2 separate regions of the Homo sapiens genome follow, and region 1 is linked to region 2. The links come from fine-mapping of genetic effects on gene expression. A gene starts in region 2. The other region holds a variant in brackets. All regions are shown on one strand. Distances are from middle to middle. Region 1 overlaps NSDHL (NAD(P) dependent 3-beta-hydroxysteroid dehydrogenase NSDHL). Region 2 holds the start of CETN2 (centrin 2).

What was found. PIP is the estimated chance that this variant, and not a neighbour inherited with it, causes the effect.
Region 1: its variant is the best candidate, but not a certain one, in a credible set for the expression of CETN2 in blood mononuclear cells (TOPMed, PIP 0.50).

What each region holds. Positions count from the first base shown.
Region 1 is chrX:152,859,944-152,865,465 of GRCh38, reverse strand. NSDHL (NAD(P) dependent 3-beta-hydroxysteroid dehydrogenase NSDHL) reads right to left here. Exons shown (of 8, transcript NM_015922.3): 5 at 2,742-2,870. Among named protein-coding and RNA genes, the nearest start is that of NSDHL, 32 kb to the right of the region's middle. The variant G/A (reference allele first, on the strand shown) is at 3,136.
Region 2 is chrX:152,828,836-152,833,835 of GRCh38, reverse strand. CETN2 (centrin 2) reads left to right here and starts at 3,079. Exons shown (of 5, transcript NM_004344.3): 1 at 3,079-3,128; 2 at 4,076-4,234; 3 at 4,559-4,687. The coding sequence starts at 3,126. NSDHL (NAD(P) dependent 3-beta-hydroxysteroid dehydrogenase NSDHL) reads right to left here and starts at 2,773. Exons shown (of 8, transcript NM_015922.3): 1 at 2,719-2,773. RefSeq lists a silencer at 2,840-3,179.

The DNA.
Region 1 (5,522 bases), 31 kb before region 2:
TCCAAAGGTTCTGGCAAACAAGTTAGCCGTGAGCCTCCAGTGACTTGAACTGCATGTGCCGCCCACGTTTCCACCAGGCCGGGTCTGTTCCAGGCAATTCTGAGTATCACCTCCGAGGGGAGGGCTCTGAGAAACCCAAGTGGGCCCAGAAGAGGGTCAGAGAAGGTGAAGGGTCTGAAGACCATGCCTGGGGAGAAACAGGCCAGCAGCTGGGGGGCAAAGGAGGCCGAGACATGTAAAGTCCTCAGAGCAGTGCCTGGTCCAGAGCCAGTGCTCCTGTTGCCACCGCAAGGAAAGGGTGACTTCTGTGTGACTTCATGGACAAACTAGAACTCAAGAGTCTAAAGCACAGTGAAATGGGTTTCGCCTCAAAAGTAACAAAACTTTCCAAAGGATTTGTTTTATCGTGGGTAAAAGTGGTGATCATAAAGGTACCTACCCTGACGGGGCTGCATGCGAATTACACGAGATGGCCCATGTGAGTTGCTTCAGTGCGTGTCTGTATGCTTGGTAAGTACGGTTCCTGCTGTCATGTCACCTCGGGTTTCTTCTACTCTATGGTAGCAAAGTGCTGGTCTATGTTTTGGCCCCAGTGATCTTAAGCAACTCAACAATGGAAAAGCTGCCTCTCAACAGATTCCCAGAGCTGGCCCTCCTCTTCCCGCCAGGACTCTGGTCCCCACAGCGATGGAGGAAATGACTAAATAAACCCTCAAATGGCTTCCACCAAGGCTCATCTCTACTACTAAAGGGAAGAGAGGTGAAGGAGTCCTAGCTCCCCATCACATTTGGTTTATGATCAGTAGGAAGGTTATAAAGCCAACAGTGGATGTCAACCTCGGCTGAAAGGAGGCTTCCGGTGAGTTACTGCTGGAGTCATCTGCAGGCTTTGCTTATTTCCAGTTGAGAACCCAAAAGTTGATATAAGCGAGACACTGATGGTCTGGGCCAAGGCCATCATTTGAAGCTCCTGAGCCTAGATGGGCTCAGCTCTGGTGGCAATCAGTATCAGGCATATTGGGTTGAGAATACACAGGGTCTCCATGGTGACTGAACTGCCTGCAAGGCGCAGGGAGGCTTTAGTACTCCTTGGGCCAAGTTCGAGCACATGAGTGCTCCAAGGAGCAAGACAGCATAGTCTGGAGCCAGGACTGTGGCTTGCCAAAGTTCAAGCCTCCACCCCTGGTCTGGGTGGCCCTTGTGTCTCCCTGTGGACCAGTTCTGCCAGGACTTTCTGAGCTGAAGCAACAGCAGACAGGCTGGGCATGGTGGCTCACGCCTGTAATCCCAGCACTTTGAGAGGCCAAGGCGGGCAGATCATGAGGTCAGGAGTTCGAGACCATCCGACCAACACGGTGAAACCCCGTCTCTACTAAAAATACAAAAATTAGCCGGGCATGGTGGCACGCGCCTGTAATCCCAGCTACTCAGGAGGCTGAGGCAGGAGAATCGCTTGAACCTGGGAGGTGGAGGTTGCAGTGAGCCGAGATCGTGCCACTGCACTCCAGCCTGGGCAACAGAGTGAGAATCCATCTCAAAAAAGAAAAAAAAAAAAAATACGGCAAACAGCCAGGAGGCAGCTGGCTCTCAGGTAGCCAGGTCAGTGTTCAGCTCCAGTACAGCATGTACCGGCTTTGCGAGAAAACCTCAGTGGGTGTGATACACTGCACACACCTGGGAGGGGTATACTCACAGCTACCCAGCTAAGACGAGCTATCCCAGGCTCAGGAGCACTCCTGGCCTGCAGCTTAGGATGGCCTCAGGGTGACAATCCCCATCTGCAGCTAGCAGTTGTCAGGGGCCCCACAGCCCCAGCAGCCTGAAGGCTTGGTAGCGACCGTGGCTGAATCCAACCATACTAAAATCAGGTGCCCTTTGATGAAGCTGTTTTGCCAAGTGGAAAAGTACTTTTTCCTTAAAATAAAGCAAGATCCTTCCGTTGTTTGTTTTTCTAAGTAAGGGAGGGGGTGAGAGTGCCACTAGGAAGGTGCCTCCAGCCTGATTCCTGTCTGCACGCTTGCAACTGCTGTAAATTCCCATAGCAGGCGAGGAAGCTCCCATGGCATTGAGGGTGGGCTGTAAGCTCTGTAGACAGACTGCCTGGGGTCAGCCACCTCCTAGCTGCACAGTTTTAGAAAGGTTCTGAGCCTCTCTGTGCATCTGTGCACCACAGTCTTCATCTATAATCTGGTGATGATGCGATAATTGTGACCTTTAAACAAGGAAAATACTCCTGGAAAACACTCAGAACAGTGTCTGGCCACATAAAGCTGTTCTCATAGTAACTTTTTTTTTTTTGGGAGACAGCGTCTCTCTCTCTCTATCCCCCAGGCTGGAGTGCAATGGCACAATCTCGGCTCACTGCAACCTCCGCCTCCCAGGTTCAAGCAATTCTCATACCTCAGCCTCCCAAGTGGCTAGGATTACAGGCGCCTGCCACCATGCTGGGCTAATTTTTGTATTTTTAGTAGAGATGGGGTTTCGCCATGTTGGCCAGGCTGGTCTCGAACTCCTGACCTCAGGTGATCCACCCACCTCGGCCTCCCAAAGTGCTGGGATTATAAGCGTGAGCCACCGTGCCCGGCCTCTCACAGTATTTTTAAATTTAATTTCACCCACAAATTTTACATCTCAAATCAGGTACGTAGGCCTCAGAATACAAACTTCATAAGTTCATAAACATTTTTCTTAGGATTCTAAACCCTTCAGTCTGCTCACTCAACCAGTTCCAAGGTACATACCCTCTCCTGTAAGATCTTAGTCTCTGTGTAGTAGTCAATGGGTTTCATGGCATAGGGAAGGTCTTCAGTTCCATTCTTGATATCGACGCCCTCAAAGATGACACTGGCACTGCTGGTTAAAATGAGTTTCTGACAGAGGAAGGTCAGAAAAAATAAAAGTCACAAATTATCACAATTCAAACAGTGCATGATCCTGTATGAAAGAGAATCAGGGGCATCCCTTTGTTGCCCTCGCATTCGAGGCACTGAAGAAATTATTTGCTGCAATGCCTTTGCTTTTCATGCCTTCTTAAAATAATCCAAAGATCACCATCTTTTGCAGCTATGTGGATTCCAGACACACTATGTATTACATTCTAACCAAGAATCAAGAGATCTTGGTTTCAAAACAAGG[G/A]ATAACACATTTTTTCTATCCCATCACACCTGAGAGATAGAATAGACTTGCATTCATGGTATCTCACTATGACAGCGATTCTCTGTTGTAAGTGAAGGGCAGCCCGCAAACTTCTAGGAAGATGTCTGAAAAAGATCACTGGCTATTCTGATAGTGACCTGGCCATGTGAACACACATAGGAATACACACACCACACGACCTCTTAAGAAATGCTATTCTAAAGGAAGATATTCTCTTATGAGGGTCCCCAGCGTCCAGCCTGCTGGTTAAGAGAAGCTCATCCAACACTGAACACCATTAGCATGAATCATATCGTTCCCATTCTTATTCAACATTGTATGAGAAGCTCTAGCCAGAGTGGTAGGGTAAGATAAACACGAATTTATAATGATTTGAAAAGAAACTGAACTTCCATCGCTTACAGATGAGAGAAAAATCTACACAGAAAACACAGGCAAATATGTAGAAAATATTAGCGTTTGGCAAAGTTGCTGAATTAAAAATCAATATACAAAAATTAACTCGTCTTATATATTAGCAATAACTGAAAATGTAATAGAAAGTTATTAAATAACAAAAAACGAAGTACATACAAATAAATTTAACGAGATATGCAAAATCTTTACGAAGTAAAGTATAAAACTCTATTGATGACATTAAAGAGCGAGATAAACAGAAACATATCCCATATTTATGGACAGGAACACTCAATATGGGAAAGATGTCAATTCTCTCCAAAATTACCTACAAGTTCAACACAATTACAACAGCAGTCTCAGCTGGCTTTAGCAAGGAACTGGTTAAGCCAAACATATGTAGAAGAACAAAGGGCTCAGAATAGCCAAGTGAAGTTTGAAGAAATTGGTTGGGGGCGTGATTTATCTACGGTACACTGAGACTTATCCTAAAAAGGCAGAGCTTCTCTGCATGGGCAGACAGGGAGGTCAATGGGGCAGAGGGGAGAGCCTGGGAACAGGCCCATGTAAGACACAAACACCTAAGACATGCTGCAGATGGTGTGCAGCGATGCAGAAAGGATGGATTATGCAATAAATGGCACTGAACTGGTTATACACATGGAAGAAAGTTAGATCTCTATCTCACACCATAAGCAAACATAAATTCCTGGTGGATTAAAGACTGAAATGTGGAAAGCAACACTTAAAACCTTTGAGGAAAAAAAGTACATTAAATAATCTTTTGATCTCAGTGTTGGAAAATGTTCCTTCAATACAACACAGCAATCACTTTCTGCACTCTTACCCACTAAGCCACTCTGCCCCTTCAGTAAATAAACCAGAGTTACATATGCCAAGATGAATAAAGAAAAACATAACACTGGGGAAAAAAGCAAGTTGCAGGAGGATCTGTTCAATAAGATATCATTGTATAAAATCTTATAACATGCAATCCAATACTTTATATTGCTTACACATGGAGCAAATGGAAATAAACCCAAATTCAGAATTGCTATCCATGGCTACAAGAAGAGAGCAATGGCATCGAGGATGGGCACACATTACACATGCCAGTAATGTTGTTTCTTAAATGCTGTGGTGAGTGGAGAGGTGCTGTTTTATTCTCAAATCTTGTTGTTTTTTTAATTTTTTTTTTAAGAGACAAGGTCTTGCTCTGTTGCCTAGGCTGGGGTGTAGTGTTGGGATCACAGCTCACTGCAGCCTGAAAATCCTGGGCTCAAGCGATCCTCCTGCCTCAGCGTCCCGAAACAGTTGAGGCTACAGGTGCATACCACCACACCTGGCTTTTAAAAATTCGTGTAGAGGTGGGGTATTGCTATGTTGCTCAGGCTGGTCTTGAACTCCTTGGCTCAAGGGATCTTCCTGCCTTGGCCTCCCAAAGCGCTGGGATTACATGTGTGAGCCGCCACACCTGGGGCACAAATCTTTGTTGTATGCCCCCAACCTTCCATTTAACAAAGAGCAGCAGGGCCCTTCCCAGGGCTCCAGTTACATCAGCATGGCTGAGTGCAGAGTCTGGGACTTGGAGAATCTGCTTTGACCCCACCTCTCCCATTTACTAGCAAAGAGACATCGTTTAGCCCCTGGTCACCCAACGAGGAGCTAATTAGGTGAAAACTTCAGCAGGGCAAAGCATCTTGTCAACTGCTAGGGGTCAGTTATAAGTGATCTTTTCCAGGGCCCAAGCCCAGAAGAGCTCCAACCCTGCTGGGCCGGCTGAGGATGCTGCGGACCAGCCAACAGTGCCAGGACAGGTTGTTGGGAGAGGAACCCCCTGGCTTGCTTCAAGTTTTTCTCTTAATTTATGCAGTACCTGTGGCATGCATCCCTGTGAGGGTCAGGATACTGAGCTGACAGGGAGCCGTTTTAGCCAGTGGCTGGAGTCCTCTAAAGACAATTCTAAGAAC
Region 2 (5,000 bases):
TTCAAGGAGCCCGCCATCTAGGGTGGGAGACAGGAGCAAGCAAAGAGTCACAGAAGTGCGTTTCCACTCTGATGAGGGCAAGCCCAGAGCACCAATGCAGGCTGCTGGCTCAGGGAAGCCTGCCCCAACTAGGAGATCCCTAAGCTGACTTCAAAAGGCCCCAGAAGAGTGAGTAAAACAGAGCGCATGGTGTCCTGAAAGACATTCCATGGCCAGGGTGGGAAGGACAAAGTGATGGCACAGAGCCAGCATGTTCTTATAACAGTGACAAGCTGTGTCACAGCAAGTGTGAAGCAAGATCGGGAGCAAAGTTGAGAACATGTGGGGGCTGTGTGCCAAGCTAGGGAGTTACAAGGGGGGAAAGATGGTGGAGCCCCTAGAAGTTGGAAGCAGGAGTGAGTGTTGCGACTGGAAAGATCACCTTGGCTGCAGTGCAGGGAAGAGATTTTGGACAAGTCTAAGGCTCCAGGCATGGTGGGCGGGGGGGAATGACAAGAGCAAATCAGAGACAAGAACTACATTTGACTCTTGAACAATGTGGGGGTTAGGGGCACGGAGCCCCGAAGTCAAAAATCCACATATAACTTTTGACTCACCTAAAACTTCACTAATATAGCTTACTGTTGGCTGGAAGCCTTACCAATAATGTAAACAGTTGATGAACAAATATTTTGTACATTACATGTATTACATACTGTGTCCCAGCAATAAATTAAGCTAGAGAAAAGAAAATGTTACTATGAAATCATAAGGAAGAGAAAATATATTTACTATTCACTGAGTGAAAGTGGATCATCATGGTCTCCATCCTCACGGTCTTCCTGATGAGTATGCTGAGAAGGAAGATGAGGAGGAGCTGATCCTGCTGCTCAGCGGTGGGAGAGATGAGAAAAAAATCTGCCTGTAAATGGACTCACAAGGTTCAAACCCATGTTGTTCAGGGGTCAACTGTAATACTGCCTGAAGACCTGCTCAACATCAGGCCACTTTACATATAAGTAGTTCATCCCATTGAGATGCAAAAGTATCCCATCAGGTAGACAGTACTGGTCTCACTCAACAAATGAGAAACAGGCTCAGAGAGGTTAAGCGACTTGCCCAAGGTCACACAGCCTGCACACAGCCTGCGCAGAACTTGTGTTTTTCCCTTGTACTCTGTCAGGCTTCCGATCTGCAGGTTGACGGACTGGGAAGCAAGGTATGGAGGGACATTAAGCTAGAAGGGTTACCAGGGGCAAAACTGGGCAGAGGGATCACAGGCCAGGCTAAGGAGCCCTTTACGGTTCAGGCTCTGAAGGTTTAAGAGCAGGGAGATGCCCTGACCAGGGCCGTTCACTACGAAGATTAACCTGGTAGAGCAGGGAGGACTAGCTAGGTGAGAGCTGGGAAACAGGGGAGCTACTCATCAGTTGTCTAATATGTGCCCCTCTCTGTTCTAGGTCCTGGAGTACCAGTAGTGAATACAACAAAGATGCCTGCCCTCAGACAGCCTGCCTTCTAGTGGAGGGACAACAAAGAGCAAAACAAACAAGCAAAATATACAGTAGGTCAGAAGGGGATAAGAACTGTTGGAAAAAAAAGTAGAGCAAGGTGAGTGGCTTGTTTGTACTGGGGGCTGCAATACTTAAATAGGGTGCCTAAGAGGAGGCAGGCGGAGAGGACAACTGAGACAAAGATGAGAGGCAGGAGTGTGGCTGGCACATGAGGTTCAACCACAAAGCCAGTGTTCTGGGGCTGGAGTGAGCCAGACGAGAGAAGAGTTGTGGAGCGATGGAAGGGGACACGTCGTGCCAAGCTTTGGAGATCACAGTGAGAACTCTGGCTCGTACTACTTGGGGGGATGATGATGACCCAAAAGTCAGGAATCTGTTCACTGCTGAAGAGAGAAGAGGGCAAAGGGCAGCAGCTCCATTTAAAAGGTTCTAATAAGCCTCGGGCCTTTCTCTGTCTGAGAAACTTACTCTCTGCCCTCTGTCTCCCTAGATTACTGCCCCTATGCCTGGAGGAAAAACAGGTGAAGGCTAAAAGCCACGGGGATAGCTAAAGAGGGCAAACTGGACCTCCAGCTCCACTTCTGCAGGTCTATGTCAGTCCACAGCCCTTGCACACGCTCCCTTTTAATTCTCCAAGCATACCTCTCACTTCCAAAACTCCTGTGACTCTGCTGATGAGGGCGTCTCGGCCTGGAATGCTCCTCCTTATCTGCATTGTGTGGGTGTCAAAAAGAGTATATTTTGATGACCTCTCCCCGCCCCTCATGCTCGCTCACATCCCCCTCACTCCTTTCAAAGTCCGTTCCCAAAGGCCCCAGTTCACCGTCCTGGGCTGCTTTTAGCCAGGTAAGATCTAAAGTGATCCTCTCTTGGAACCTGGTCTGGGGCCTATACATCTGGGTCAGTCTAGGGGTGCTCTCGAAGGGCCACCCTCAAAGAGCGAGCCTCGGCTGGATTCAGTTCCTAGGTCCCAGCCGTCCGACCTCTGCGACAACACTCAGCACACCCCTTCCCCTCTCCGGGTCTCAGTTGCCCCGTGAGTACAGTCCCTGCTCCAACACGCAAGGTAATCGTTTCTGGCTGCTCTGATGCACTCGGTCCCTAAACTCAGCCTTAGGTCAACCCAGAAAGCACCCGACCCGGGCGACCCCGTAGCTCCCCACCCTCCCGCACTGCCCAGTCGCTGACACAGGGTGACCTCCAATGGCAAGGCCACGACTCTTACCCGTCCGTAGGCGCCCCCCTGTCTGGCCTCAGCTCGCAAGCAGGCTGCACCCACTGAACTCCAGGCCCGGACCGCCACCCTTTACTCCCCTCCCGCGTGAGCCGAGAATCAGCCGAGCTTCCTCCACCAAGAGGATTGGCCCAGCTCGGCGACGACTCAGCCAATTGGCGCTCACGGCGTGATCTTGCCCAATAAAGACGGGGCTCTGTCGCCAGCGTGCCCCTCCCCGCGCTGGGCCGGGGCTTTGCCAGGTTAGTCCCACCCTCTTCGGCCCTGCACCAATAGGGAGAGGCGGCGACGAGCGGACGGCCAATGGGGAGCGGGGCTGCGCGCGCGGGGCGGTGGGAACGGCGCCGAGTCAGTGTACACGTCGGTTGCCTAACAACCGGCAGCGGACTCCTTTGGCTATGGTGAGTGCTGCCGCTCTGTCGCGCCCCACGCCCAGCGGCTGAGCCCTTCCCAGGCCCCAGCTCGGCCACGCCGCCTCTCCTGCGCCTTTCTCGGCTTTAGCGCACCAGTCTTTCCTTTGAGCTCTTTCCCGGGAGAGTAGGGTACAGACGCTAACCAACCTACTGGGCCTGCGCTTCGCTGCTGCCTCCTCTTCACCCACAACAGGCCCACACCCGCCCCTCGGGCTCCCCTTGCATTCCCTGATCCCCTCGGTGAACCTCCCTGGGCAAAAAAGACTCGAATCCCTCACAGGCCCCTGACTCTCTCAGACCTTGGCCCCCTGGCCTCCTCATTCTGCCAAAATTTCCACACACAGCTGGGAAAAGGTGTATCGTGTTCTGTTACAATGTTTTTTACAATTTAAATACAGGGGCATTCAGGGGATGCTTTAGCTTCTTGGAGAAGGCACGAAGGTGCCAGATGGATTGAGTTTTATTACTCGGTACTGACACAATATACATCTTAACAACTTACTAATATTTGGCCAAATCTAGAAGTAATTGGGAAGTCGGAGTACTTACTGGGAAGGGGAGTACTGGGAGTGGGCATCGTAAGACTGTTTTCAGAACCAGGATCCCCACGTTCGGGAAGAGCTGATTATCTCTAGTTATTCACAGTCATCTTCTTGACTGGCTCTCTTTTGGGATGATTTTCAGTAAGAGGTGTCCTTACTGAACAAGTGATCTCCCTGCTTCTAGAAACAACAGTAAAGAAAAGGGAGGGGTAGAAGTTCATGGAAAGATTCATTGTTCTTGCCAGTAAACCCTGTTATCTTTCTTTTTAAGCAAAGCTTTGGAATTGGTTATATAAATGACTTTAAAAATACATATGGGTGTCTGTAACTATGTTATGTAAATATGGACTGTATGATATATTATTGTGCTTGTGTATTGCATAACATATAAAGGCCTCCAACTTTAAGAAGGCAAACATGGCATCAAGTTCTCAGCGAAAAAGAATGAGCCCTAAGCCTGAGCTTACTGAAGAGCAAAAGCAGGAGATCCGGGAAGCTTTTGATCTTTTCGATGCGGATGGAACTGGCACCATAGATGTTAAAGAACTGAAGGCAAGCTCTGTGCATTCCTGCCGTACTGCCCTTCCTTTCCTCTGCCTCTTCCTTGTCATCTCCCTATCACCTCTCTACCCCTTTTGCCCTCTTCTCCCTGCAGTAAGTAACAGGGGAGGTTGTACTGTGCTGTTTTCCTGTCTTTACTTACTTTGAGTATTATTCAATAAAATTGATTGCAAATATCAATTAGATCAATGTCATAGTGTTCCCCAATCATATTAACATGACCACATCAGATGCTGGCTTAATGCTCTCAACACTGTTATTTTTGCTCCTGCTACTTTAGATGTGCTTATTGAGACGATCCTGTTTTCTTTATAGGTGGCAATGAGGGCCCTGGGCTTTGAACCCAAGAAAGAAGAAATTAAGAAAATGATAAGTGAAATTGATAAGGAAGGGACAGGAAAAATGAACTTTGGTGACTTTTTAACTGTGATGACCCAGAAAATGGTAAGTAGCTAAGACAATTATCATGGTATGGAGCCCCAGTCATCTGCAGAGGTCCATGGCGTCTTCCTGTTAAAACAGTCATGTGACCACAGAGCAGTCCAGGTAGCAACTGCATCAGGAGGCCTGCCCTCCCATCATGTTACTTTGGGCTCCCAAAACAAGCCCTTGTGCTTCTTTCTCAAGACTTCCAAGCAGATACCTCTTCCCACAGAATTCCAAATCAGTTAGGAAATAGATATGGGATAGGGAGAGATATAGCGATAGGTAGCAAACGTCACCTTGGATGGAGTGCCTGGCTTGCCTGGTGTTTCTT